Homo sapiens: one gene and its partners. The protein of the gene in region 2 interacts with the protein of the main gene of each other region in a pairwise test. Each region holds a gene or a part of one and is shown on either strand. Other genes may lie near its edges. The genes, in order: FER, PPP1R7, MYH3 and CLNK.

What was found.
Region 1: the proteins of PPP1R7 (region 2) and FER interact in a two-hybrid assay, tested with the Homo sapiens proteins (one large-scale study listed by BioGRID and IntAct).
Region 3: the proteins of PPP1R7 (region 2) and MYH3 interact in a two-hybrid assay, tested with the Homo sapiens proteins (one large-scale study listed by BioGRID and IntAct).
Region 4: the proteins of PPP1R7 (region 2) and CLNK interact in a two-hybrid assay, tested with the Homo sapiens proteins (one large-scale study listed by BioGRID and IntAct).

What each region holds. Positions count from the first base shown.
Region 1 is NC_000005.10:108,749,931-108,755,873, reverse strand, and holds part of FER (tyrosine-protein kinase Fer), read right to left. Parts: intron 1-5,943. UniProt on the Homo sapiens protein: Tyrosine-protein kinase that acts downstream of cell surface receptors for growth factors and plays a role in the regulation of the actin cytoskeleton, microtubule assembly, lamellipodia formation, cell adhesion, cell migration and chemotaxis.
Region 2 is NC_000002.12:241,152,500-241,158,442, forward strand, and holds part of PPP1R7 (protein phosphatase 1 regulatory subunit 7), read left to right. Parts: intron 1-976; coding exon 977-1,105; intron 1,106-2,518; exon of another isoform or gene 2,519-2,765; intron 2,766-5,307; coding exon 5,308-5,363; intron 5,364-5,943. UniProt on the Homo sapiens protein: Regulatory subunit of protein phosphatase 1.
Region 3 is NC_000017.11:10,645,190-10,651,132, reverse strand, and holds part of MYH3 (myosin-3), read left to right. Parts: intron 1-731; coding exon 732-759; intron 760-1,447; coding exon 1,448-1,556; intron 1,557-2,483; coding exon 2,484-2,576; intron 2,577-3,706; coding exon 3,707-3,770; intron 3,771-3,852; coding exon 3,853-3,951; intron 3,952-5,100; coding exon 5,101-5,204; intron 5,205-5,287; coding exon 5,288-5,426; intron 5,427-5,943. UniProt on the Homo sapiens protein: Muscle contraction.
Region 4 is NC_000004.12:10,681,073-10,687,551, forward strand, and holds the start of CLNK (cytokine-dependent hematopoietic cell linker), read right to left. Parts: upstream 3,697-6,479; 5' UTR 3,596-3,696; intron 1-3,595. UniProt on the Homo sapiens protein: An adapter protein which plays a role in the regulation of immunoreceptor signaling, including PLC-gamma-mediated B-cell antigen receptor (BCR) signaling and FC-epsilon R1-mediated mast cell degranulation.

The DNA of each region.
Region 1 (5,943 bases), on a different chromosome or scaffold from region 2:
GGCTGATACTGTATATTTTCATAAAACAAGATGTGGTATAGCTGCTAGGGTGGCTACTGACCCATTTGTTATCAAAACTGAACACTGCAGCCAGCCACTGTGGCTCATGCCTGTAATCCCAGCACTTTGGGAGGCCAAGGCGGGTGGATCACCTGAGGTCAGGAGTTTGTGACAAGCCTGACTAACATGGTGAAACCCCATCTCTACTAAATACAAAAAAATTAGCCGGGCGTGGTGGTGCATGCCTGTAATCCCAGCTACTCGGGAGGCTGAGGCAGGAGAATTGCTTGAACCCGGGAGGTGGAGGTTGCGGTGAGCCGAGATTGTGCCATTGCACTTCAGCCTGGGCAACAAGAGTGGAATTCTGTCTCAAAAAACAACAACAAAAAAACCCTGAACACTGCTAGAAGAGTCAAATGCACTTTTCTTTGTAGAATGTGAAATTAACAAGGGAGCCCCATCAATCCACGGAAGCTTGGGAAAGTCTCCCAAGCTGAAGACATCCAGAGAAAGGACACATACTACAGAAGTGTTCAACTCCAAGGAGAAAACATCCAAGAAACAGAAGCATACAGAAAAGCATTACAGCGACCAAGGACTAAACCTTGTGACAACGCAGCAAGCTTTGTGATTAAGCCAGAAATGCTCTTTTATTCTGCAAACTATAGGATACAAGGGGCAAGAATAAGAACCTTGCCTGTATACAAATAATGTAATGCAAAGTTGTCTAGTCTTCATTTCAGAAGCAAAAAAATTAATAGCTTTAATGACTCGAGTCCTCCTTACCGGATTGTACGGGTCTGAAGGGATCACTTAAACTTTTCCATTAAATTTGACTGCATTTTATGGAGGTGGTTATATCCTAGATTCACAAAGGTTTCAGGAAATACCACTTGCAAATATCAAAGGTCTACTAAGTCTTCACTTGGAACTGTATATTATACGTGGTACTTCCACATAGGATGAGTGATTTAAAATTAAGCTCTATTCATGGTAATGCAAAGATACTTTTCTGACTGAGCCAATGTAAAGAGCATTTTTACATTCTAAGTGCCTAGAAAATAAAAATTCTAGTACTGTTTCCACTTCTCTTAAAACCATGAGTCCCAATATAGAAATAGCCTTTTTGCAAGCAAAATGATTTACACTAGAAAACTAATTTCAATTTTTGTACAACAATTAGTGTTATTCCAGTCACAATACAGACTGAGGTACTGTTACCTAAATATTTTTACATGTTCATTAAGTTATTCTAACTTTTAAATATAGGTCTCTATTAATGACATAAAATTAGTGTAATAATATTTTCTTATGTAGCATTATAAGAATGATAAGAAAAACTAAAGGGGCATTCACTTCAGGAAAATGTGGAAATAACTTGGGTCCCTTACAGAATTGTAAGGTATGTCTTCAGTACTTGTTACTAACAATACTTACACACTATTTTTTTTTTTTTTTTTTTTTTTTGAGACAGGGACTCACTCTGTTGCCCAGGCCGAAGCACAGTGCTGCAATCATAGCTCAATGCAGTATTGAACTCCTGGGCTCAAGGAATCCTCCTGCCTTAGCCACCTTAGTAGTAGTACAAGCACATGCCATCATATCGGGCTAATTTTTTAACTTTTTTGTAGAGTGCCGTCTCGTTATGTTACCCAGGCTGCTCTCAAACTTCTAGGCTCAAGTGATCCTCTCGTTTCAGCCTCCCAAAATACTGTGATTACAGGCATGAGCCACTGCACCCAGCCCACATTTTTTAATGACTCACTTTCTCCAATAAATCAGAGTAGATTCAAGTTTATACCCATAATGATGTCACTCTCAATCATCTGCATTCTAATATGCTTTCTTGAATAGGAGAGAGACTGAATTAGAGCTCGCATGCTAGAAAACTGCACAGTGGAATATGTCATACATGTAAATATCTTGTACCTGGACGGGAAAAAATATAAGAAAACTGACTTGGATCACAAAAATCTGTTTTACTGCTGGATGAGACCATATGGACTCTAGTTCAACTGCTAAGTCAGTTCAGTGCTTGCTTCTCTACACAGAATAACCATAGGCTGGTCTGCCCATTTAAACTGTATGTTCTTTAAGAATTAGAACCCTGTATTTACAGAACACACAATCTGAAACAGGGATATCTGTAAAATACTGCTCCTTAAAAAATAATCATACGTTTCAGTAGGAGGTGGAAAAGACACAACTAATATACAAATAAGGGTATTATTAAATTTAAAAATGAAGTTTAAATTTTAAACAGATTGAGAAAATGTGTTTGCGGGGGCACTAGTTAGAGATTTAAGACAGTAACGTGTAGCTAATACCTGTGGTTTAAATGAAAGGAATTTAGGGCAACCATCCAAAAACACATGATCATCTAGGCAAAAAGAAAAATAAATCAGGAATCCAGACAAACTGGAGATATTTTGGAGTTAAAAATCATTTAAAGTAAATTTATAATTATCCCTGCTGAGATACAATAAGCTAAGATTTATAAAAAGAACAGCTAATCTGAGATATTTCTAACTATTTATTTGTATAAATGCAAATGTCATTCAACTTAAGTAAATTTATTGTAAATTTAAATTTAAGTAAATTTAATTATATTTTAATTTCTTATGTCTGAAACAAGGACTTTGTGGATGGTATAATAAACACATTAATACAAGGAGAGATAAAATCAATGTTATCACATAAAGAACTGAATACAGAAGCTGAATACTTCCTAAAGTCAGTTTAATACTTCCTAAATCTTACCTACATTGTCTCATTTCTTCTATGTAACAAGCTAGTGAAGCAATTTTACTATCCCTATTGAATAGATGAGAAAATTATGACTTAAAGAGATAAAATAACTTGTCCAAGATCCCACAGAACAGAAACTGGAACTAAAACCCGATTATCTGACTCTAAAATAAATGGCTCCTCTTTTCACTACACTTTGAAACCTAGCAAGGAAAACCTACATAAAATGTCCAGTCTTTTAATACCTACTAAAAAAAGTGACAATATCAAGTTTATAATGAATGGTGATGATGAATAAAAATTAGTAATTGTCTGATATGAATATTTTTAAAATAATTCCAAACATGCATGACATTAAATTTTTAAAGCTGAATTATGTAATATCCTCCAAAAATGAAGAAATCTGAACTATTTCTTGAAAAGAACCAAGAAAACTTTGTTTTACCTAGATACTTTGAATTCCAAAGAAAAAATATGGCCTCATATTTTGTCAGCCATACAGCAGTTTTATATGGTAAACTAAAATATTTATACTTACAGAATAAGAAACAGTAACTGCTTGGGTCTAATTCCTCTGTTCTGACTCTAATCTGTCCTCTATTTATTCTTTTCCATTTTTCCCCCAGATCTAGGAGCCCTCTTCTAATTTAAGGTAACAGCCTCAAGTTCAGGAACTCTTACAAATTTTGATGTGAATGCAGATACACTGAAATGAAAACCATAAAATCTCAATAATTGGTAGAGTGTTACAGAAGAAATCAAAGTTTGTTAGTTTTCAAATCATTATGGTAGAATGATGAGTGACTTCATTTTCTTCTCTATAGTTTTCTGAATTGATTGTAAGGCATTTAACATTTATAATCAAACAAAAATAAGAAAGAAAAGGAGTAAAAAAAGGGAAGGAGGAAGGGAGGGAAGGGAAAATTGGAGCCTTGATTTTAAAAAATCCAATTGTTTCTGAGTTCACTGAATCTACAACTAAAGTTCTAAAACTGTGACCTAATTGTTTCCTTCAGTCTCTCAATAGCATGATAGGTTAACCATACATAAGCATACCAAAGACAAATGAAATTTGGAAAAATAGTAATAAAGCAATCCAGAGATCTATAAATTCTGAGACATAGCCCTTAATATTTAAGAAATTACTATATGAACGAGGTAAGTATGAAAAACAGATTTAGGGTATGCAAAAACTAAAAAGCAAGATTCAAATACTTAAAAAGGTGTACACAAATTTCTCGGGTATAGAAAAATTACAAATATACAAATGTGTGAATTTATACCCATTTCCACTTATTCCTTTACTATAAATTGAAGTTTTATATCAAAATATTCCTCAGAACCATGAGACAACACCCAAGATCGTTGAGTCCTATCGAAATACTGACTTAAATTTCTCTAATTACGTCAGTCTCCATGAAGCAGTTCTACTAAAAAAAGTTCACCTTTGTAAGCTTTTTCCATTACAAAAATACATTCTTATTCCAAATGAACAGACATAAGATTGACCCAATTTATCAAGTTACCAAAATTTTACATAATTGATAGTCCCTTGGACTTCCCTCCAAAAGATGTTTATTTATAAATCAAGTACAAAACTATAATCTATTTACACAGGAGTCCAATTTTGAAGCAAAACGTTTTTTTGTATAACAAGTTCATCAGATTTCCTTTTGTCTGATTACCAAAATGCAGTTTACTTATTTGGGCCTTGATTACAAAGATGATGACTTCCTACCTCACTCACAAGATTGCTTTGAATAGTCTCATGTAATTAAGTTAGTATAGTTTTAGTAAGTACAATTCCCACTCACAAACAAAAATAAGCACCTTATAATTTGGTGGTGTGTATATACATGTATACTACATATACATGTATATACATATGCTGGGCTTTTTGTGGTTTTTTTGTTTGTTTGTTTTTTGTTTTTCTGAGATGGAGTTTCGGTCTTGTTACCTAGGCTGGAGTGCAATGGTGTGATCTCCACTCACCACAACCTCCGCCTCACGGGTTCAAGCGGTTCTCCTGCCTCAGCCTCCCGAGTAGCTGGGATTACAGGCATGCACCACCATGCCCGGCTAATTTTGTATTTTTATTAGAGACCATGTTTCTCCATTTTGGTCAGGCTGGTCTCGAACTCCCGACCTCAGGTGATCCGCCCGCCTCGGCCTCCCAAAGTGCTGGGATTACAGGCATGAGCCACCGCGCCCGGCCACATACGCTGGTTTTTTAAGCTTGATCATTTCAGTTCCTCTATTCCTTAATGTTTACTGTGTAACAGTGGTCTTGAAATCGTTATTGCTAAATATATAGGTGGTGGGTTCAACTCGACTCTTCTGCATTGTTTGAAATTTTTCATAGTAAAATAGTTGAGAAAAAACTGGCAAATTTGAAATGTTCACGGTCCAGAGTTACAGTAACATCTACATCGAAGATGAAATGTAAATGATTTGTCTACCAAAGCTTGAATTATTTCTTCTGAACTAAAGACATCAACCTTTGAAGCAGTGCAGAAGCTGCAACAACTTGACACTACATAGTTTTAGATTATGTATATTTAATGCTGTCAACAATCAATGCAGAAGAGAAACAGATCTTCACTAAAGGTCTTTCAAAGATGAAAACAGAAGTATGCCTATGTACTCTCTTAATATATTCCCAGCATCTTTGGAAGCATAATTCTCTTGGCTCAAAAGTACTAGCAGAAAAGCTTTCCTGGACTACAAAAAGATACACTCTGCTTTCCCGACTGACAAACCTGGAGCTACTCACAAATGTCTTCTTAAGGGCAACACAGGTATATATACCAGGACTACAAATACTGCACTAAAGATTTTGCAATAGTTTTTTTTTTTTATCCTATTCTCATTCCACATATGAATTGAAAAGTATTTTCTAATCTTTAATCACTAAAATAGTTTTGATCTATTCTCTTATTGATGTTCCACTACACTTTTATATATGGTAACCTCATCTGAGAAATTTATTATCTTAACATATCTGGAGAAAAGGAAAATGGAGTACACCTTTACAGCAGTTTATGTCAAAGTGATAGTGAGACAACCATTAATATACGCAACTTCTGAATTAAAAAGGTTAAAAAGCTGCTCTTTTTTTAACCATAAGGCGAAGGAAAAAAATGTAAGGCTACCAGCCGTAACAAATTATTAGATTTTGAATTGCACTACAGTGGA
Region 2 (5,943 bases):
AGAAGAGATGGATTTGGAGGTTTTGGAGGTGGGTTTTATAAGGACTTGTTTTCTACAGCAATCCTTTCTTGGGTTTTACTTTGCTAGGCTAAGCGGGAAGTACAAAGATGAAGTTGAACTTTTTCCCTCAAAGAGCACATCTCTTTGTAGATAAACCATAGTCAGGAAAGAGTATTTTCAGTATGGTTGATAATTCCAAGTAATGTGTTAGTGCCTCATGTTTTCCAGACAGACTTCCAAAAGAGGTCATGAGTAAAGTTATAAAAAAGAAAAATGATTTGACAACCTTACCAAAGAATTTTTACCTGACACATTGAATTGCCTTATTCTTTAATTCAAAAAATATTTATGAACCTTTAAAAGCCTTAAGTTGCTAACACTCTGTCCAGTGTCCAGTGTGAAAGCTCATTTCACACCAATGAGCTTTCTGTGGGCGGTCAGCACTATTGGCTGTATTCTCCTTTTCCTTAGTGATCCTCCCTGCCCACAGTCTGATTTGAGTTAGTCTTGATTTCTTTCAGAACGTGGGCCTGTGAACTTGGCTGGTTTTCTTAGCCAGATAAATAGTGGAGCATGGATGGAGGTATGTGGCAGAAGGGTCACAGTGGTGATCCCCCAGCCCAAAAGTGAAAGGCACTCAGGAGGTGCTTCACTACCGGGTTCCATTAGTGGATTTAATCACAGGTGATCCAAGGCTTTCAGAACACTGGGCAATTCTTCACAAGCTCCTTGAGGGCAGAAGTAGTGTGTTCCTCACCTAAGTATCCATGTGGGCTCCACACTCTGCTCCCCATTCTCCCCGCGGCCATATGCCTCAAATGGTGCTGGGACATGGGAGACACTCAGATGTTCGTTGAACTGGATTCAACAAACATGTTTAAATGAAATCCTTTTGACTTACAACCGGGTGTTTATTATATGTTCCTCAAAGTCCCATAAAGTGGATGTGAATTCTCATTGACATGTGTGGGTTCAGTTGACAGGCGGGTCGAGTCTGAAGAATCCGGCGATGAAGAAGGGAAGAAACACAGCAGTGGCATCGTGGCCGACCTCAGTGAACAGAGCCTGAAGGATGGGGAGGAGCGGGGGGAGGAGGACCCAGAAGGTACCAGGCCCAGCTCCCTTGGGGACATCTGCTGGTTGGGGGATGTGGGCTGTGCTGCACGTGGTCTGGCCCTGGGTGTGGGTGCTGTGTCGGTCTGGAGAAGGACTGCCGTGCTCCTTAGGGGTCCTCAGTGGCCCAGGGCAGGTGGATATGCTCTTTGAGGTGCTCCTTCAGCAGGCTGACTCATTGATGGCGTTTGCAAAAAGGATGTGGTTTTTTCCAATTCCACTGAAGGCAAATCCTAGCACAAATATGGGTACTAGTATGCCGTCTGAGACAGAACCATGACATTGTTGGCCAGATGCAGTGGCTCATGCCTGTAATCCCAGCACTTTGGAAGGCCAAGGCGGGTGGATCACGAGGTCAGGAGATCAAGCCCATCCTGGCCAACATGGTGAAACCCTGTCTCTACAAAAAATACAAAAATTAGCTGGGCGTGGCAGCGTGTGCCTGTAATCCCAGTTACTCAGGAGGCTGAGGCAGGAGAACCGCTTGAACCCAGGAGGTGGAGGTTGCAGTGAGCCGAGAACACACCACTGCACTCCAGCCTAGGTGACAGAGGGATACTCCTTCTCAAAAAAAAAAAAAAAAAAAAAAAAAGGAAAAAGAAAAGAACCGCAATATTGTTATATTAACCATATGTTTAGGAAATGAGATTCGAAATAAATGTTATGGCTGACTGCTGTGTTTCTATGTCCTACCATAGCAATAGAAACCTTTAATCTCTGAGAGAAATTATTTCTGAGTCTTGCCTTACCATTTTTATAGGCCTGAGGATTGACTTCTAAAGTGCCTAGATGTGGCCGGGCGTAATGGCTTACGCCTGTAATCCTAGCACTTTGGAAGGCCAAGGCGGGTGGATCACTTGAGGTCAGGAGTTCGAGACCAGCCTGGCCAACATGGTGAAACCCTGTCTCTACTAAAAATACAAAAAAAAGAAAAAAAGAAAAATTAGCCAGGCATGGTGGTGTGCACCTGTAGTCCCAGCTACTCAGGAGGCTGAGGCAGGAGAATCGCTTGAACCAGGGAGGCAGAGGTTGCAGTAAGCTGAGATCACACCACTGCACTCCAGCCGGGGTCAGAATGAGACTCCATCTCAAAACAAAAAAGTTTCTGAACAGTATGCATGCATGTATGTACTTTTACCTGCTAAAGAAAGAAAACACATCAAACGGGCTGAGTCTGTCCAAACAGCAGGTTTAAGAAGGATCTATACATTTTGTGTTTTCTAGATTTGTATACAGTGTATGAATAATCATGCATCCCTTATGAAAATAAATTTATGAAGAAACAAACCTAATTTTTAAAATAACATTGTGCTCTCTGTGCCAGCAAAGATGATTGGTAACTATGGCAACCTACTTTTAAGTCACAAGGAGATTACCACAAAAGTACCAGTCACATTCACTTTGGAACTTTGAGGCTGATGTTCTGGAAGTGATGTGGGTGGAATAAAGTGCATGGGAGTGATAGATGGAAGCTTCCGTCATCGCCTGACTTAGTCACCAACAGTGGAGCGGTAGGAGCCCCCGCTATCCTCAGATGGGTGCTGCTGAGACATTGGGTGTTTATGGAGGACTTGAGAGTTGGCAGAGCAAGCCTTGTGTGCTTTCTTTCCCTGGCTCACTAGCACAGGCTAATCATGTTGTCATCATGTTCTGTAAGTACACCAGTGTGGTAATGTGTTATAGATGAGGAAAATGAGACTCTCTGCAGCTTGTCCAAGGGCACACGGCTACAAGGCAGACCAGCTGGCCTGGCCTGGAAAAATCCAAGTTTTTTCTTCGAGATGATTAGCTGATTATGAATTTTCTGGGAATATGCATTTCTAGCCCTTAGAGGAGCCAAGACTTGCTCCTACCTGTATTTATTTAAGTCTTAAATTCAATTAAAACAAATTTAATCATGTCAACTGTTACCTTCTACCTATTTTCCTTAAATTATTTTTAAAATATGATGAATATATAATACACTCAGAAGGGCATTCTAGGCTGGAAACCTTGTTTCAGAGGTTAGCTGACATTTTGAGTGGTGAGCGGCCAGCCCTGCTGGCTGTATTACAAACAAGACCCCTTAAAGCCATGCGACCGTGTGTCCTGAGGAGCCTGGCACAGCCCGTTTCTGCCTGCTGGCCCAGCATAACTGTGCCCTTCTGCTCTCAAAGGGTCCTGGTTTGGACTACATGACCTGGGCGCCCTGCCTTAATTGTAGCACCTCTTCCAGTGCAACTTCCTGAGTTTATGAACGGTGACTTGACACTGTCTTTTGAGGTGATTTGTTATCTATCTCTTGGTTTTGCCCAGTTCCTTTTATTTAATTCTTAGGTTGGTATCCTTTACAGTTGTGGATAAACTATAGTAAACTTTTTTTTTTAACTAACCACAGTTGATGGTTATAGAAAAGGCATAGTGGAAAACAATGAAGTGAATGCAACCATGTGGGATCATGACTTTGTTAAGCTGGTCTGATGTCAGGTGCTCCTCTCAGAGGCCTCCAGGTGAGAGGAGGAGCCAGGCTGGAGGAGCCAGCCCTTGGCATGGGGTCCAGGGCTGTGTGAGCTCACTCCCCTGCAGAAGCAAGTGCACGTTTGCTCTAGGAAGAGCCACAGTAACAGCACTGACAGCCCTGTAAGGTAGTGACAATGACAATCTGTTTACAGGAGAAAGAACATCCTATGCATATAATTCACAGACTCCAGACTGGGAGAAGCACTACAAGACAAACAGCTTGTTTTCCTACAACAGAAAACTGCAAGGGGAAAAAAGAAATTTAAGAAAAATGCTGGGCTGGGTGCAGTGGCTCGTGCCTATAATCCTGGCACTTTGGGAGGCCAAGGTGGGAGGATCACTTGAGGCTAGGAGTTCCAGACCAGCCTGGGCAACATAGCGAGACCCTGATTGTACAAAACATGGTTTTAAAAAATTAGCCAGGCATGGTAGCACACACCCGTAGTCTCAGCTTCCTGGGAGCCTAAGACAAGGATTGCTTGAGCCCACAAGTTCAAGGCTGCAGTGAGCTATGATCACACCACTATACTCCAGCCTGAACAGCAGAGTGAGACCCTGTCTCTTAAAAAAAAATTAATTTAAAAAAGTTTTTTAAAAGAGAAATACCATCTAGTCACAATATACAGCCTTATTTGGATCATAATGCAAGTAAACTAAGGAAAGAAATGTTAAGACAGTTGAGGAAATACGAACACTGACAATCTTTGGTGATATTGAGGAATTACTGTTAATTTTTTTAAGTGTTTTGAGGGGTGAGTGTGCGTGTTTGTGTGTCTGCATGAGTCTGTGTATACCACTGTTGTGCATGCGTGTGTCTGTGTAGTGTGCATACGTGCCTGTGTGTCTTTGTGCATGCGTGTGTGTGTGCATCTGTGTGTGTCTTAGTCCTTTTCAGCACACATGCTGAAGTAGGTTCCAATGAAATGAAATGAGGAAGTGCTTAACAGGGAAGCTGTCGCCTCAGCAGGGAGAGCAGCTCTCTCCCTCCTCCGCACAGAGGATGCCGGCTCCGGGGTAGAGAGTCCTCGTGAAATCCAATGGGCTTCTCTGCTGGAGTGAGTTCACCAGTCTCCCCACTGAGAAGTGTGTTTAAATTATTCAGTGAGCTTCTTTGATCCTATCTGTTGAACTATGTTTTGTTTTGTTTTGCTCTTTGCAGAGGGAAGTGTTTGTAGATGCTGGGCCACCTTCCAAAGCAATAAAAGGCCCATCCTAGAGCATCTGATGTGCCCAGCATGGTCTAGATTCTAATGGCCTGGTTTATTGCCACAAACAAAAAGAGAAAAGCTACATGGGAGGCAGGCTGCTGCCAGTTCTGCAGCTCTGGGAGTCACGGAAAGGCAGTAGTGCTACCCTGCTCACCTGCACTCAGCTACTTCCTCCCCTCCTTCCCACTAACAGGTTCAAAACACATTTCCTTTCTCAGGAAGTTCAAAGGCACAGATGGATGTTTGGTGACCTTTGCCAATATCTGAATTCAGGAAATTCAGAATGCTTAAAACATCACTATTGTTGGAGCAGGGTCTAACCCTGCCACATTCTCCAGGTCCTCAGCAAACCTTCCCATTGGTTCCTCCTCGGGGTTTGAGCTGGCTCTGGGCACCAAACAGCCCCAGACCTCAGCCAGAAGCAGCTCTTCACCAGTGCCTCCTGTTAATGGGGTTCTGAACAAATCTCTTTTTCTTATTTTTTCAGAAGAACATGAGCTGCCTGTGGACATGGAAACCATCAACCTGGACAGAGATGCAGAGGTAATGCCGCCTGCTCAGCCCAGCCTTGGGCGTGGTGATGGACCACCCTGTCAGGTTATCTTGTATGAGATTAGTAAGTTATTTCCCTAGAGAGGTGGCCTAAGCCTCCCTTGGTTGAGTCAGAGTCCCGTGTTCATGTTTTTCTTACCAGTGATTGTTATCCCCATGTCTATTCGACCCTTGAGGATTGTGTGGCAGATGAGATGCCTTTGACTCATACATTGTCTGGGTCTGATGATTACATTATACATGAGGGTCCCAATGGCCCCAGGCTGTGTATGACTGGCCACTGGGCCTCCTGAGCCCACAGCGTGTCTCTGATGGTGATGGGATGGGGTGCATATCCTCAGAACCTGAGCTTATGTTTTGTGCATACAGGATCTAAGGAATGAGAAAAAGATGTCATGTACCAATCATTTTAAGGGCCAGTTTTACATAAAACTTAGTCATCACTAAGCCAAAGAGCCCCCGCAGCACACCTTGTCACTGACATCTGTCTGCTGCAGACCCACCTGGCACTGCCTCCCCCACTGCTGCCCACTTCCAGGCCGCCTCTTCTAGGACGACACAGGTCTCCAGC
Region 3 (5,943 bases), on a different chromosome or scaffold from region 2:
GCTCACCACAACCTCTGCCTCCCGGGTTCAAGCGATTCTCCTGCCTCAGCCTCCCGAGTAGCTGCGACTACAGGTATGCACCACCATGTCCGGCTATTTTTATATTTTTAATAGAGACAGGGGTCACTTTGTTGGCCAGGCTGGTCTCAAACTCCTGACCTCGTGATCTGCCTGCCACAGCCTCCCAAAGTGCTGGGATTACAGGCATGAGCCACTGCACCCGGCTGCCACTGGCTGATTCTGAGTGGAGACTTGCCCTCTCTGAGTCTCAGTCTCAAGAAGGAGGCTTTCGATATTGACCAAAGGATACAGCTGGAAAGGAGAAATCGGTGCTGGTGATCTGTCCCATAGAATGGTGACTCCGATAAGTAATAATGCATTGTATATTTCAAAATCCCTAAAATAGTATATTTTAAATGTTTTCTCCACAAAAAAATAAGTATGTGAGGTGACGGATTTGTTAATTAGCTTGATTTAATCATTCTGCCATATAAACATATATCAAATCATCATGTTGTACCCTACAAATATATACAAATATTGTTTGTCAATTAAAAATAAAATAAAATAAAAAGCAGATGGAGGCTCTTCAGATTCCCACCTAAAGGCTAAACAAAAAATGTAAAGGAAGAGGAATTGTGCAATTTAACTCTGGCTACTTGAGAGTTGGGTAGAATCGGGAAGCTCTTTTTCTATTGCCATCAACTCTATTTTATTTTTTCCTCTGGCAGATCGTGAAAACCAGTCCATTCTGATCACGTAAGTATCCATGGCATAGAGTGGTTTCATAGCTGTGCCACTGGCTCTATTCTGTTCATTAGAAAGTGTTTGGAGCAGAGTCTATAATAAAAAGATCAGGCTGGGCGCGGTGGCTGACACCTGTAATCCCAGCACTTTGGTAGGCTGAGATGGGCGGATCACGAGGTCCAGGAGATCGAGACCATCCTGGCTAACACGGTGAAACCCTGCCTCTACTAAAAAAAATACAAAAAAATTAGCTGGGTGTGGTGGCGGGCACCTGTAGTCACAGCTACTCAGGAGGCTGAGGCAGGAGAATGGCGTGAACCCAGGAGCCGGAGCTTGCAGTGAGCCGAGATCGCGCCACTGCACTCCAGCCTGGGCAGCAGAGTGAGATTCTGTCTCAAAAAATAAAAAATAAAAGAGAAAAATAAATAAATAAAAAATAAAAAGATCGATTTGGGGATGGGGAGGAAGGTCTGCATAAGGCCTCAGAAAAATGGAATTACCCATCCTTGGGTCAGCTGAGCAAGTGCCTGTGGCACCTGTGCCCTGGGCGTCTGCCTTCTCAAGTGGTCTGTCACATTAGTGTGGTGAGTGTGTGTCAGAGATGGCTCAGACCATGCCCAGGCCTCAGTATGACATCCTGAAAAGCCTGTTTATACTAACAGACTTGTTTCTTTCTCTCTCTTTTGATCACTCTGTACAGCGGAGAATCCGGGGCAGGAAAGACTGTGAACACCAAACGGGTCATCCAGTACTTTGCAACAATTGCAGCTACTGGGGACCTGGCCAAGAAGAAGGACTCCAAAATGAAGGTATAGATGGGAGAGGAAGGCTTGCTTTGCTTCCACTTTTAACTGTGGTCTTAACCTCAGAATGAGGGGGCCAAATGTCCTCACATTCCCCCCTCTTCAGAGAATGGAGAACAGGCTAGGATTTACTATCTTGAAGGACAGCCAGTCACCTTAGACAACGCAGTGTCAAGTTGGTCTTGTAGGACTAGATCCCGGGATTTCTTAGAAGACAAGGCTCTAGGGCTAAACTTCAGAGGTCAATCTGCAGACGGCTCAGAGAGCTTGTTCTTTTGTGGAAGAATCACATATACCAATGTGAGTGACTCACAGCATATCCTGGGCTTTTGAAACAAATGTATTACAGCAGCATGAAATGAATACGGACAACTGACTGGAGAATCAAGGGATTGAAGTGTTAAAGGAATGCTCAGTCAAGAGATCCCCAACTGTAGTGCCAAATATAACAAAATGGCAAAAGTGTTTTGAGTAAGACATGCTGCTGATTTGGTTGGTCCTAGGATTGGAAAGTCAAGGAGGGTGGGGCTTTATCAGGGCAAGCCAGAGTCACAGAGTGGGTGAGCATTTTTTACTGTCATTCTGTGGCTTAAAAACATGTTTCCTCAGGCTGGGCTCGGTGGCTCACGCCTGTAATCCCAGCACTTTGGGAGGCCGAGGCGGGTGGATCACCTGAGGTTAGGAGTTCGAGACCAACCTGACCAATATGGAGAAACCCCATCTCTACTAAAAATACAAAATTAGCCGGGCATGGTAGTGCATGCCTGTAGTCCCAGGTACTCGGGAGGCTGAGGCAGGAGAATCACATGAACCCGGGAGGTGGAGGTTGCAGTAAGCCAAGATCGTGCCATTGCACTGCAGCCTGGGCAACAAGAGTGTAACTCCATCTCAAAAAAAAATGTTTCCTCTTCTTCCCTCAATTTCTTGCATTAGGGGACTCTGGAAGATCAAATCATCAGTGCCAATCCCCTGCTGGAGGCCTTTGGGAACGCCAAGACTGTGAGGAATGACAACTCCTCCCGTTTTGTGAGTCTGAGTTTGGTTAAGATGGAATTTGCTTTGTGCCTCACAAAATAGGCAAGAGCCCTGTCCTCAAAGAGTGTAGAGACCAGAGGCAACAGATGATGAAAAACAAAACAACCCAACAAGACCATTTCAGATAAAGATAAATTCAGACCAAGTTCAATGAACAGCGTGTGTAAGAGAGGAACTGGGGGCCAGGCTTGCTTTAGGCAGGGTGGGCAGGGAAGACCTCTCTGTGGGGCTGGCACGGGAGCTGAGAGCCGCAGTATGAGAAAGAGCCCAACTTGAAATGACAGGAAGGAGGGGGAACGAAGGAAGGGCCAGGGCAGTCCCTGACATGGGGGAGGGCCTGGTGCAGTCAGGGCACCTACAGAGGGTCTGTGTGGTTGTAGGGAGGAGGGCAGGGGGGCCAGTTCCATGAGATGAGGTGGAAGAGAGAGAGACCTGGTCATGTGGGAGCCACAGGCCATGAGAAGGAGTTTGGATTCCTTTTGAAGTGTAACAGGAAGCTACTGAGGGATTCTATAAGCCAGGGAGTGATATGGTTTGATTTACACCTTGAAACAATCACTGTAGTTGCTTTGTTGACTAGATACGTTGAAGTGGGGGATGAGCATAGAATAAAAGGGATAAATAAAAGGAAATAAGGAAAACCCCAAACTGGAAGAAGAAGAAGGGAGAAGAGGAAGGACATATCTAATTTCAAACTGTAGGGGGTGCTGGGCACGGTGGCTCACGCCTGTAATCCCAGCACTTTGGGAGGCCGAGGCGGGCGGATCACGAGGTCAAGAGATCGAGACCATCCTGGCCAACATGGTGAAACCCCGTCTCTATTAAAAATACAGAAATTAGCCAGGTGTGGTGGCACGTGATTGTAGTCCCAGCTACTCAGGAGGCTGAGGCAGGAGAATCACTTGAACCCGGGAGGCAGAGGTTGCAGTGAGCCGAGATCACGCCACTGCACTCCAGCCTGGTGACAGAGCGAGACTCCGTCTCAAAAACATAACAAAACAAAACAAAACAAAACAAAAATTTTAGGGGGACTAGGCTCCTACTCAAATTACCCATAAGATGAATAGGAACTATTGGGCCATGGTAGAATCTGGTCTCCCCCTGAATCCCGCCCCATACAGGGCAAGTTCATCCGAATCCATTTTGGAACCACTGGGAAGCTGGCCTCTGCAGATATTGAAACTTGTAAGTAGATCCATGGGGATTCGATGGCGTCTCAGAGTTAACTGGGAACAGTTTGAAAGAGAGTCCTGTGTTTGTGTTCCAGATCTTCTGGAAAAATCAAGAGTCACTTTCCAGCTGAAGGCTGAAAGAAGCTACCACATCTTCTACCAGATTCTTTCTAACAAGAAGCCTGAGCTCATAGGTGAGGAAGTCACCAGTGGGGCTGGTCTTTTAGGTAGTTTGACTCTGATCACTAGACCAAGGAGAGTTGTATCTACGTAGAGTGACTCTACAGTCAACAGGGAAAGTTTATTTTATTTTATTTATTTATTTTGAGATAGGGTCTCACTCTGATGCCCAGGCTGGGGTGCAGTGGCACAAGCACAGCTCACTTGTAGTCTTGACCTTTCTGGGTTCAAGTAATCCTCCAGCCCCAGCCTCCCGAGTGGCTGCGACTACAGGTGCATGCCCCCACACCAGGCTACCTTTTGTGTTTTTTGTAGAGATGAGGTTTCACCATGTTGCCCAGGTTGGTCTTGAACTCCTGGGCTCAAGCAATTTGCCCGACTCGGCCTCCCACAGTGCTGGGATTATAGGTGTGAGCCACTGCACTTTGCCAGGAAAAGCTTATTTTAGAAATGGGATGTGGCTATCTGGGCAGTGACATGCCAATTTGAAAACCTAATCAAATGGAGGGCAACAAGATTAGACCACTCCTGACCAGCTCTGGTTTATAAAAACCTTCTGAGCAACTGAACACCTAACTGTCCTTTGGCGCCCCCTTGTGTTCTGGCACAGAAACAACCTATGGCCAAATGCGACGCCAAAGCAAACAGAATAATCAAGCCCACGGAGGCACTGCACACTGCCCCTTGTCTGCCCCTCACAGAGGTCTCCATGCACACTGCTTCTTTGCTCTTTGGCTGTATTTGCTCAGCCTTCTGGTCTCCAGCTTGGAAACAGGCTGCTGCTTTTCAACAGATTTTAGAAAAGGCTATGATTATACCAAACCACCTGGGTTGGCTCTCGTCCTGACCCGCACTCAGCCAGTTTTCCCTATTAACTTCTCCCAGCCGACACTGATATGCACCATTAGCGTGCAAGGCAAGGGAATTTAAAGGTTCTCTCTAGGGTCCTTCATCTCCATTGTGTGGGAGACTGAAAAGTCTTCCCTGGACTATATTTTCCATGACAGCCTGAGTATTGTGGAACTGTCTAAAAGATTTTTAATTCTAAGTTCAATTTAGGATCCAGCGGTAAAAGTTCCAGCCCAGGGTGCAGGAGCTCAAGTCCACTGGGTGGGTTTTTTCTTTGCATCTGCATAACCTCCTGGAACTATTTGTCATTTCAGAGCTGCTGCTTATTACGACCAACCCTTACGACTACCCGTTCATTAGCCAGGGGGAGATCCTGGTGGCCAGCATAGATGATGCAGAGGAGCTGCTGGCTACAGACGTAAGTGGAACCAACAGAAGGGGTGGGTGTTCCTCCTCCATCACTGGGGCCAACTGACTGACGTGCTGCCCTTTCCATGCCAGAGCGCCATTGACATCCTGGGCTTCACCCCAGAAGAGAAATCTGGGCTCTACAAGCTGACGGGAGCCGTGATGCACTACGGGAACATGAAGTTCAAGCAGAAGCAGCGAGAGGAGCAGGCCGAGCCGGATGGCACAGAAGGTACAAAATCAGTGTGACAGCAAACCAGAGCGGGTGGCTGATCTGCTGAGGTCACTTGGTACTGCTTTTGAAAGCAATTAATCCAGCCAGGCACAGTGGCTCACACCTGTAATCCCAGCACTTTGGGAGGCTGAGGGGGCCAGATCACCTGAGGTCAGGAGTTCGAGACCAGCATGGCCAACATGGTGAAACCCCATCTCTACTAAAAAAAATTAGCTGGGCATGGTGGAGCATGCCTATAATCCCAGCTACTCAGGAGGCTGAGGCACGAGAGTCAGACAGAGTTTTGCTCTGTCATCCAGGCTAGAGTGCAGTGGCATGATCTCAGCTCACTGCAACCTCTGCTGCCTGGGTTCAAGTGATTCTCCTGCCTCAGCCTCCCGAGTAGCTGGGATTACAGGCACACACCACCGCGCCTGGCTAACTTTTTTGTATTTTTAGTAGAAACGGGGTTTCACCATGTTGGCCAGGCTCAAACTCCTGACCTCAAATGATTCGCCTGCCTTGGCATCCCAAA
Region 4 (6,479 bases), on a different chromosome or scaffold from region 2:
CTCAGCAAATCCAGCTTTTGAAATTACACAGCTCTGACTTAGTGCTCAACAAGCTACTGCCCAATATCAATTTAGTTTCCTGTGTACATTTGTCTCCTGGGAGGGAATATGCCAATCATCTGAACTTATAATTTGAGTACACTTGAACAAAATCACCAAAGATGGATACATAGGTCAAAGTACCAGAGTGAACTGACCTCTTGAGCTCCATCAACTCTGTGTGCCTTGGATACAATTAGCTTTCTGGGTCTTCAAAACTGATGGTGAAATGTGGTCCTTAGGCAGTCCACAAAAATTCAGCCCTCTCAGAGTTTGGGCCTAGGCTATTAGTCAGCCCTTATCTTTATCTTACACGAAATTGAACACAGAACCTACCACTGTTAAAGATTATCATCCAATCACATGGATATTAAATTTTCATGTTGTATCTAGACCTTTTGGCTCATCTTAGTTCAAATGACAAACCACAGTACCATTTAAACACAATAGGATTTTGATTCTCATGCATAAGTGTTTAGGAAGCAGTGTTTCAATTAGTATCACCAATGAAATTTAAAAGAAACAACTAAAATACATATTTTGCTAATGCTTGTGGTGTATCTGGGAGTTCCTTAAATGCTGTTGACTAGTTTGGAAGACAGTGATTGATGCCCTGATCATGAACCTGGGAACATCAGCAGGGTACTCATGGAGCACCATGCCGAGAGCAGGAGCTCGGGGCTCGGGTGGACCTGGGTCTCATTTCTGGCATATCCTCCTATTCATTGCATGAAATGGACAATGCATGGAGCCTGCCTGAACTTCAGAATCCGTTTTGTAAAGTAAGAATTAAGTACACCTACTTAAAAAGTGAGAAATGATGAGCGTTTCTTGTCTATCAGCAACACTTAAATGGTAACCTGTAAGTCATTGCTCTTTGGAAGACATGATTAAAATTAAGCAGAATAATCACAATAATGATTCCCAAATATTCTGCCCATAAGAGTAACAAAAAATAAATAATAAACACAAAAATTGGTCCTATGATAGCTCTATTCCACAATTCTGTTTGTGTGTGTGTATGTGTGTGTGTGTGTGTGTGATTTTTTCGTTATTGCTGATATCTAACCTGATGCTTCTCAGTTTTATTGGTAAAATCGTGAATGTTTGGTTTAATCTGTTAAAAATCATAAATAGAATTTAAATTCAGGTATTTATCTCTCTGGTTAGTAATTTAGCCGCTTTGAACACTTTATGTTTCTTTGTCATGCTAGGAGGGTAGGTACAGCCTAGAAGAACTCTGCAGAACTCAAGTCTTGGCAGATGTTGGCAGTAGCTTATGACAGTGGATATAACTGCTCCATGTACTAGGATTCAGAAAAGGATGCTTCTAGATCTCTGTCTGCTACTCTTCATGTGAAAATTTAGCCAGTTCCTGGCTATCTCTTCTGTGTCAGACACTGTGTGCACATTTGCTCTCACTCTCGAAGCAACACACAAAATGTATTCTTCCTCCCAGTTTCAAATTACACAACTCCAACAACAGCTAACTAAAGATCAGAGAGGTTAAGCTACTTACCTAAAGACGAACAGTAAAGTCACACACTAGATTCATGTCCATTTTTGACAATCTCAAAGCCCTGTTTCTTTCCATTTCACCATGTTGTCCTTCCTCATCTTTTCTAAGCCCCAGTTTCACCTTTTAAATGCTCTAATACGTGCTCTGCCTACTTCATTAAGCTGTTAAGATCATTCAAGAAGAAAATATGTATTCAAAGGCCTACATTACATAGGGCTATACAACTGTGGAATATTACCATTCTCTAATGAGATTATTAAAATACAATATTTGTAAACTTATGTGTATTAATCAATTCTATGTTGATTGTGGTCATGTTTTAAGAATAAAATCAGAACTGATTTGGAGTGAGGAAAGGAAAGTAATGGAGAAAGAAGTCAACACTTACTGAATACTTGCTAAGTGTTAAGAATGCACCATATTTCACGTAATATAAATATTATATTATTGAGGCTAAATAATTGTCAATACAAGTCTTATGAGATCTTACTTTATTAAAAAGGGGGAGGAAATGAGGATCATATATGAAACAACATCCCTGGTCCAAGTGGCAGAGTCAGGATCCTCACCATTTTGATCAGGCGTCAAATCCTACAGTCTTTCTAAGACAGCACCTGACTCATGGCAAAGTGATCGAGAAACAGAATCCCCTGGTGTTCAGGCCAGAGCTGGCCAGATGGTACAGAAGATTATAAGCACTGGCTTTCAAATGGTCTTGCCTATACAGTCATCTGAGAGGGCTTGTTGGGAATAACAAAGAAATACTACCATTTAGATGGTTGGTGTCAGAGACCACCCAGGAGTGAGTTTAGGGATGAGCTCTGTGAAACTGCAAACTAACACTGTTCACCATTCCAATCAGTCAGCCAGGAAAATCAGTTTCCTTCTGAATTCTGTTACTGACATTAGTGACTGAACAACCTTGCACATATTACTTAGAGAACTCAAGTTCTTCACCTGTAAACCAGGGAAAGTAATAGCCAGCTCTCTAGGTCAGCAGGAGCTGAAGGTAAGTAAATGCCAGTTGCCATTCCTACTTCTCTAGGGCATACTGTATCTTAAGCTTCTTAGAGGATTTCTGAAGCGCTGTCATTTCTCTGGTAGGCCTTCAATTAACCAGCTCTACCATCGTCTTCTTGATATTTGAAATGATTATTCCTGGTGGTTTGGGAGGCCCCTGGAAATCCAAAGAACAACACTATTGAGGAGCTGCGCCACAGTATAGACAGAGACAGCCAGAGAAATAGCCATGTAGGTAATAGACAAGTAATACTCATAACAGAGAAGCCAAATGAGTAACACTGGTGTAAAGTAATAAAAACAGTATTGATAAAAAGTTCAGGCATATCGACACCTTTTAAAATCAAAGTATCCATATTTTGATGATAGTTATTTTCTTTTCTGTCTCATTCCAGTTTGTTTGCTTTATCCAATAAAAGCCTGGTAGAGATGACTCCCGGCACTTTTCAAGAGTAAGAATTTAACCCCAACTTTAACCTCACTTTTGAGCTCCTTACTCTTGTGAGTGGAAGGATGTCTGCGTGATTCCAAAGTCTAAGTCTCCTCTACACCAAAGCAGAAAGAAAATCGTATTACTTTAGAAAATGTTAAAAATATATTTCCACAGGGCTCCAGGAGTTAACTTATACTTTGAATGACCTACTTTGAATGGAGGCTTTCTTTCTAGAGGGCTTACTTAATGAAGGTCAGCCAGGAAAGCCAGCCATGGGGCCTGGTCTTTAGATTTCAGTTGCAAACAGTCGGGGAGTCCAAGCTCCAGGAAAAGAAGATTGAAAACATTTAGTCTTTTAATTTTCTGTGGGTAGGTATCCTGATTCTTTCTCCCAAAAGAATGAAAGGATCTTTAACAATTGAGTTAAGGGCTTTCTTCTTGCTCCTTTGATGCTATATATAAGGCCCAGACTTCCACTTTAGAAACACATTTTTACTTGCTGCTCAGGTCTTTCCTGATGATCATTTATGACAAGGAGATGACCATGAGATCCTCACTCAGAAGAACTGGCCTAATGAGTTTACCTGAACAGCGTGGAGAGCACCAAGGGATCTAGGCTGAGGTGTCCGTCTCCTGTGAGGAGGGGCGGCAGTGCAGAGACCTTGGGGCACTGGAAATTAGTAAGGCGGTGGGTTGAATTCTTCTCGATGCTAAGCAGTGCCCTTCAGCAGAAAACCTCCTGATAGGTCCGTTTTAGACTTGGTTTCCTGTGAAATGCAGCCACAGACCTGAGAGGTCTGACCTGAGGGCTGGCAGGACTTCCTCTTCTTAGGCTGGAGTGCAATACGTGAAGCTTTCAGAGGCTGAAATCTTCCAATGCAAAGGGTGTTTTTAAAGACACACGGTGTCCTTATGTGGCACTTCATAGTTACCAGAACACAATAAAAGGAACTGCTGGGCAACACTCAAGCATGGAAGGTGGGTTTTGCGAGTCTCACTTTATATGAATAGTGGACATTAACTATCATCTTTTGGCTTAATTTTGCAATGGCTTCCTGAGACCATCCCAGACACATGGACCAGGTGTTAAGGAAAGAACCTGGGAACTAAAGGAGAAATGCCTGCCTCTTATTCTTGCTGTATTAATTATTAGCTATAGGATCTTGGGCACTTTGAAGTTTATTTCTCAAGTAGTTTGAGTGATAATAATATTTGTATTTTAGAAACTTTTTTAAAAAATGAGGGATAATTGAGGATTATATTTCCTTCATTGAGGAAATGATATTTCCTCAATTGTGATGGAAGGATAATATTTATATTTTAGAAGTATTTCAATAAATAAACAAAATATTGTAAATAAAGGCATGCAGTAATGTTTGGGCACATATCAGTTGCTTAATACATTTTCTTTCGGCCTTAATCTTGGTCCATTTAAGCTGATCTTGCCGAGTGCCTGTTTCCTCTTCTGGAGACTTGACATTCTAGTTTTATATAAATTGATGTTGAATTCCATAACAAACTCCAACATTATTTACAATAAATTCAAAGGTAGAAGTTTATATTTTCTTGGGTAAATAACTCTGGTTTTGACTTAACAGACACCCCAAGGAAAACATGAAAATAAGCACTCTTTGAATGCTAATTGTGAGTCAGTTACATTGCTAAGCAACTTGCAAGCATTATCCTCCTTAATCTTACTAATAACCATGTAAGGAACATATGTAAAATCCCATTTTGTAATTGTGAAAACTGAAGACTAGGGAGACTCGAGTAGTTTAACCACTTTATTAATTAGCTTTTGCTGCATTAGGGGCTTAAAGCAGTAACCACTTTATTTAGTTCATAATTGTGTGTGTCACTTGCTCACTTCTTTTGGTCTGGACCCATATTAATTTTCTGGGGTTTTCATAACAAAGGACTGAGCCCTGAGTGGCTAACAAAACAGAAGGTCAAATTGTATTGTCTCACAGTCTGGCCTCTGGAAGTCTGAGATCAAGGAGTCGGCAAGGTTGGATCCTCCTGAGAGCCATGAGGAGAAGATCTGTTCCAGGCCTTTATCCCCGGCTTGTGGGTGTCTTTGTATCCTTGTTTTTGTGTTTACATGGCATTCTCCCTGTGTCTTTGTCCAAATTTCCCCTTCTTATCAGGAGAGGAGTCACAGTGAATGATGGCTCACCCTAATTACCCAATTTTAACTTGATTACCTCTTTAAAGACCCAGTCTCCATGTCAGAAGGCATTCCAAGGTAGTGGGGGGTTAGGACTTTAACAAATGAATTTTAGCTGGGACGTATTCGACCCATAACAAGACCTGATCATCTGGTCTGTGCTAGTGGGTTGAGAGGCAGTTGGATGATCTAAGATTATCACACTCATGAATCTGTTTGTTGGCAATCATGTCAGCCAGGTGCCTCTGTTCTCCTCTGCATAGCTTCCTGTTATCTAGTGGCCAGCTAGGCCCATGTACACGGTGGGTTTGGGGCACTAAGGGCAGTGGGAGAGGGGAAACTCCAGCCTCCAGCCTTTTCCAGGCCTCTGCTTGCATCCTAGATGCCATGGTCCCATTGGCCAAAGCAAGTCACATGGCCAAGTTCAGAGTAAATGTGGGAGAAGACTATTCAAGGGGTGAATGAAGAAAAGTGAATTATTGTGGTCTTCATTGGCAAATAATCTAAAAATGCATGTTCACATCCAATTGGTGGCTAGACTGCAATAAGAACCCAAGTCTAATGATATGAATATTTCTGCTTTTTACTCATGAAGAATTGAAGACAATTTGGTTTAATGAGAAAGCTGATAATAGTGTAGGTGATATTTAAAGCTTTTTTTCTTGGAATATCATTCATTAATTTATTATCTATTGAATATATACCATGCATCAGCAGCTCTATTAGGTGCTGAAAAATACAATTAGATAAGAGATATACCTACTCCTTTGATGGAGCTTACAGCCTAGAAGAGGTGAAAATAAATGAATGGACTTCAGATATATATAAAACTACAATTTGTGGTAAATGCAATGAATAGTGCCTGATCAGACATGTATTGATTTAACAAATAGATATTTACATCCTCTACCTACTACTATCAGCCACTGGGCAAGCTGTGGGGATATAGAGGTGAAAAAAAAAAAAAACTTGTCCCTACCTTCATGGAGTTTCGAATCTAATATAATAGAGAGGTATTGAACAAGAAATCAACCATCAAGATGATGTATTCAGAGACAGGAACAAAGAGGGCTCTGAAACAAATAGGAGGCGAATGTGTTCTACTCTGTGAATTCAGACCAGATTTCCTCTGGGGAAGTGACAAGAGATCTGAGGTGTTGACAATAGGTAGAAATTTGCTGGAGCAGAAATGGAGAAAAAAGAGGAGGGAAGAGGAGAGAAGGAAGGAAGGAAGAAACAAAAGAAGGCTTCTAAGAAAGAAAGAAGCAGGAAAGGGAAGAGGAGGGAGGGGAGAAGGGAAG